Regions from separate parts of the Homo sapiens genome. Here region 2 is linked to region 1. Evidence: fine-mapped expression QTL. A gene starts in region 1. The other region holds a variant in brackets. All regions are shown on one strand. Distances are between the middles of the regions. Region 1 holds the start of FGGY (FGGY carbohydrate kinase domain containing). Region 2 overlaps FGGY (FGGY carbohydrate kinase domain containing).

Evidence for each region. PIP is the estimated chance that this variant, and not a neighbour inherited with it, causes the effect.
Region 2: its variant is the best candidate, but not a certain one, in a credible set for the expression of FGGY in pituitary (GTEx, PIP 0.63).

What each region holds. Positions count from the first base shown.
Region 1 is chr1:59,295,570-59,298,586 of GRCh38, forward strand. It overlaps FGGY (FGGY carbohydrate kinase domain containing), which reads left to right and starts at 1,525. Exons shown (of 16, transcript NM_018291.5): 1 at 1,525-1,581. FGGY-DT (FGGY divergent transcript) reads right to left here and starts at 981. Exons shown (of 2, transcript XR_001738089.2): 1 at 800-981; 2 at 1-195. RefSeq lists silencers at 927-1,466, 1,477-1,566 and an enhancer at 2,984-3,017.
Region 2 is chr1:59,754,597-59,757,096 of GRCh38, forward strand. All of the region lies in intron 14 of FGGY (FGGY carbohydrate kinase domain containing), which reads left to right. Among named protein-coding and RNA genes, the nearest start is that of MIR4711, 23 kb to the left of the region's middle. The variant A/G (reference allele first, on the strand shown) is at 1,536.

The sequences.
Region 1 (3,017 bases):
GATTCACACAGCTGCTAAGTAACAGATTCCAACGAGTCTATAGCTAGGTCTTTGGGTATGTTGCTGGTAATGAAAAGGTGAACAATCATGGTGCAGAAGAAAGAAAATGAGCCAAACCAGGATCCCTGGTAGAGTTGTAGTGCAAAGACTGGGGTTAATTGTGTGGCCTCAGCCTCACTGGGCTGTTCTCCTCACCTGTAAGACCAAGATAAGAGCACTTATTTACTTCGGGGTTGTTGTGAAGATAGCAGACAATCTTAGTGCACCTGCCACTTAAGATCCGTTCAGTGAAATTATTACCTTTCACAGGTGTGTCTTTGGAAAATCACTTCCCTTTCCTGGATCTCAGTTTTCTTTTCTAGGAAAACAACATGTTTGGACTCAGCGACTGCTAAACTGTCTCCCAAACCTCGAACTCCCTCAGCCTGGGATCCTGCCTTTTATGAAAATAGTTCGGATTGGAGCTCAGGTTGGAATTCTCGCTTTAGTTGCTTGCTAGCTGTGTGTCCCAGTAAAAGCTAAAAATTTCGGATTCCCCACATCTGTAGAATAGGGATACATAACATGCAGCTTATTAGAAAGGGAAGGCATGTGAGAATTAAATTAGGTCCGTGTCCAGTACCCACTAAATTGTAAAAACTTCTCAAAGGCAGGGACCCATCTGTTTTGTAGATTTACAGAATGTCATACGTTGAAGTACGGGGGTTCGCCACGGGATTAGAAAATTTCTGTAGAGTAAGGAACAAGACACAAGGTAAGCATTCAAGAATTGTAACCATGCAATATTCTTATTTCTTACAGTCGCCTACAACAGTCCTGGTGTTTAGTAAACGGTCTGACACACACACCCATCAGGGGCTGCGGAGAGTCCGCCTGGGTAAGCTCCGCAAGGTGAGTCCCCAGAGCCGGGAACTCGCAGCCTGAGCAGACGCAGCGTAGCCGATCTTGGGTCCGCGCTCCTCCCGCCTTGCCCAGCCCTGCCCGCGGTTGGCTAGGCCCCAGGGAACGCTGCAGCCGCGGGGTGGGCAGGCGACGGCCAATCCCACGCCCGGTTCAAAGGGCCAATCAGGCCGCGCTTTACAGGGGCCGCGCTTTACAGGGGCCGCGCTTTACAGGGGCCGCGCTTTACAGGGGCCGCGCTTTACAGGGGCCGCGCTTTACAGGGGCCGCGCTTTACAGGGGCCGCGCTTTACAGGGGCCGCGCCGGCGGGGGCGGGATCGCGCGCAAGGCGGGGCTGTAGCCGCCCCGGGACCGCCCTGCTCAGGCGCCGTGGGGTTCGGCGCGGCTACGTGCAGAATCCGTCTAGCTAAAATGTAATTTCAGATTGGACAAGTACTGTAAGTGACCCTCCTCTCAGTCCCACGTGGGCGCTGGGGGCTTTTGCTGGTGCGCAGGCTCTTAGCGCGCACGCCCAGAAAGAGGCTTCTCCAACCCGGCCCGGCCCTTCCTTCCCCTTTCCCGCAGTCGTTGCCTCCTCCTCCCCTGCCTCCTCCTCCCCTTCCTCCTCCTGGCCGCTTAGTCTCACACCCGCCGGGCCGTTGTTCCCGAGACGTTGTTGAGTCCCCTGTGTCCTCTTCTGGGTGAGGCGTCCGGCCACTTAAGGGAAGGGAAGGGAAGGGTCGGCCTTGACTGCATCCCCAAGGCTGCCTATTAGGTGTCTGGAACCCGTGCTGCTTCCTCTCCGATCAGTGCCCACTTATCTGTATTCAGTACTCTTTCTCTCCTCCCCTTACCCTTGTAGGACATTTTCCTGGCATTTGAGGAGCCTTTAATTCACGTCTGGCTACCGAAGGCATTTTTAGGCTAGTGTTGCTTGTAGATTTAAACGCTTCCAGCACTTGTGATAATGTTTGAGGCACAGCTGAGTTTAGATGAGATAATGCTGTTTGGTTACAGTTATCCTGAGTAGAAAGGCCTAGGGATATCTTTTCATTTTTAGCCGTTTCCTTTTTATTTAAAGATTGACAAGGGGCCGGGCGCGGTGGCTCACGCCTGTAATCCCAGCACTTTGGGAGGCCAAGGCGGGTGGATCACGAGGTCAGGAGATCGAGACCATCCAGGCTAACACGGTGAAACCCCCGTCTCTACTAAAAATACAAAAAATTAGCCGGGCGTGGTGGCGGGCGCCTGCAGTCCCAGCTTCTCGGGAGGCTGAGGCAGGAGAATAGCGTGAACCCAGGAGGCGGAGCTTGCAGTGAGCTGAGATCGTGCCACTGCACTCCAGCCTGGGGGACAGAGCGTCTCAGAAAAAAAAAAAAAAAATTGACAAGGTGCAAAATGGTGAATTTCCCTCATCATGGGCTGTTTTCCACTAAAGCACTTCTGTGTCTTAACACAAATTTCTTCCCCGAAGAGTCAGTCATGACATGACCAAAGTCTGAAAAGCAGTTAATCCTTAGGTTAAATTTTAAAGTATGAGACCAGGAGGGGTGAGGTGCTTATTCTTTTGACTTGTAAATCAGAATGAAAGAAGGGAAAGTCTTTTATTTTGTGGCTGTTATTTAAATGGTAGAGTTTTGCTTTGTATAGTTTTTGCTTGCTTTTCCTCTTTTTTTTCTATGATCCACCACGTGTATGTCCTGATTTTTTTCCTTTTTAACTTGCTTGCTGGATTTTCCAGCCAGATGACTGCCGCTTGGTCTTCTGGGAGTCTCCTGTTAATGGGGCCCTCATGCTTGGCTCTTGACCTGATGGCCACTGGCCTGGCTCTTGGAGGACCTCCTAGTGGGAGGCCCAGAGCACTGTTATTAAGGATGATTGGGGGAACAGATCAGAGGGGGTCAGCTGGGCCTGGAGATCAATTTTGAGGGGGAGGGAGGTTGGGAGCCTGCCTGGCTGGATTTGGAAGTCAAAACATGTGTGCTGGGAGAAGGGCATAACCCCAGAGGGTGGAGAGCCATGTCTTTCTGGATAAAATTAATAAGTTTACTGGGAGGAGGCTGGGCCTTCCAGGCTGTGTTAGTTTTTGTTGTGGGCCTTGGCTTTTCCTGGAATTTGGTTCCCTTTCCCTAACCTT
Region 2 (2,500 bases), 460 kb after region 1:
TAGTAGAGACGGGGTTTCACTATGTTGGCCAGGCTGGTCTTGAATTCCTGCCCTCAAGTGATCCACCCACCTTGGCCTCCCAAAGTGCCAGGATTAAAAGCATGAACCACTGCTCCCGGCCCAACCTCATGCTTCTTTATGGTGACTGCTCCACCTCGTTAGGTGGCCATGTTGGACAGGATCTGAGAACCCCTGGCAGCTCTCTCATACATGGGCCACTTGGGGTCTATGGGAAACCTTTGTCTTTTGGATCTGGACAGACTCTGGCAGTGCTGGTTGATCCCAGGGTAACCTCTACTTCACTTTTACACTGCAGCTGTCAGCCAGCCTGTCTCTTCCAGACAGGAGTCACATACAAGCCACCATGTGCCACAACCTCAGGGACATGCAGCAGATTCTCTGCTGGTCTGTGTCTTCCTGACTCCTGAAGGGAGAGGATCTCTTCATACTTCACCCTGGAAGGAGGCCTGATGTGCAGTAAACCAACAGCTCTTTCCTAAAAATCCATCTCTGTCTGACCTTCCACATCAATGAAAGGTTTAAGAGTTGATTAATGGGTCCTCAGGCACCCTTCTTGCACATTCTTCAGGGTGGTCTGTTTCCAGTTCACTTTGGTATCTTATATCTGTCATCTTTAGATCTCAGCCAAAACTTCCATTTTAACATTCCGTCACGTGTATTATCCTTAAGTTCATTCATTCCGTAGACATTCCCTGAGTGCATACGATATGCCAGATGCCGAGTTTGGCAGTGAAAATAATTATAACAATTCCTGCTTTAAGGCGCTCACAGTCTAGTTGGGGAGGCTGATCTGTTAACAAAAAAATATGGTGCCATGTCATAAACGCTATGATAGACGGAAGCAGAAGTTGCTGTTGGAGCACATAACTCAATATAGGTGGGAGGCAGGCAGCGGGGATGAGTCAGAAAAAAATCTCAGTAGAGCTGATACCTGAGCTAAGTTTAACATTTAAATCTGTACTTTCTGAGAAACAGCATAACCTCTTTTTAAACCATTGAAATCTCTCTTGCTGATGTTTGCTTCTCAATTTATTTTTAAAACAAGCAAAGGTAATGTGGAGAAAGGAGGGAAGAATTCCCTGATGTCTGCCGTTTATGTGCACATCTGTTGCAGTGGGAAGGAAAATAACATTTATGGAGTACCTTCTATAATAGAAGTTTCCTGGATCCCACCCATGAGGGCGATCCTGGAATGTTGTCTCAAGTGTGGGGCCAAAGCACAGCCAGGAGGAGCATTCCCTGAGGGCAGTTTGAAGATTCAGAGCTGGCAATAGAAGGCAAGGTCCTCCCTAAAGCACAGCAGAGCACAACTCAAGGAAGAGACGAAAAGGACAAAATAAGAATGAGTGGCACGGTTGATGATGGGGATTGCTGAGACCATCTCAACAATACCCCGGCTTGCTCTAAGGGAATCAGGACTTCGTCTTTGAAGGAAACTGTTCTGGGGTAAGCAGAGCTCTTAACATACCTCTGCTAAGTGGAATGGCAGCATGTTCACTAAGATGTGTTTGACC[A/G]TTTGGCCCTCCACAAAATGACTCCAGACAGCCCTTTTAGTCTTCCTCTTTCTCCATGGTTTCTTTGTCAATAATTTTTCTTCATTAAAAAAAATCTCCTCCCTACTTAAGGCTGCCATTTCTTTCTGTTGTCATTGTGCTGGCTACTCTTAGCATCTCTGATCTCCCAATCAGCACATTCACATCCATTGAGAGCTGGGAAGCTAGATGTCTAGTTCAGAATGCACATGCTATCCTTGTGGAAGAGTCCATAGAGCAACCTAGCAGGAGTGGAAATTCGTGTAAGCTAGCAGATGAAAGAACCATCAGGTTACCTAACCCTTGAATAACTACTGAAAGAAGTTTATCCGCTTCTAGCGTAGTATTTATCACACTCTATTTTGATCACAGTAAATGTCTTTTCCACTCTATAGTGAGCTCTTTGATGAAAGGCCCATGCAATCTTCCTCTCTGTATTCCATGTAGATTGAGTGTTATGCTTGGCACGTGAAAGGGAGGCAATATGTTTTATGAATAGTCCAGGTGTCGAGACTTAGTAGTAAACAGACAAGTCCTTGCCCTGTGTAGCTTACATTCCGGTTAGGGCAAGGAGTGGAGAAGGCAGACAACGAACACATAAACCAGTAAATATACAAAGTGGCAGAAGGAAATTAGTGGCATGCAAATCAGTCAATCAGTCACAGTAAGGTGGCAAAGATGGTCAGGGGAAACACTTGGAAATGTTTTGAAGATACCCAGGGGCTCTCATATTCTGTATGGTATTCAGATTTTTTTTTTTTTTTTACATTTTTTCCTCCCTTACTAGTATGTGAGTTTCTCCAGGATAAAGAGTATGTCGTATGCAAATCTGTATCCCTAGCAGAGTGTGTGGTACATAGTAAGTGATTAATAAATGTGTAGAATAAGAAGTTGTACACATGTGATCCCAGAATGACTGCATCCTTAGCAATAGGAATTCAATAGCC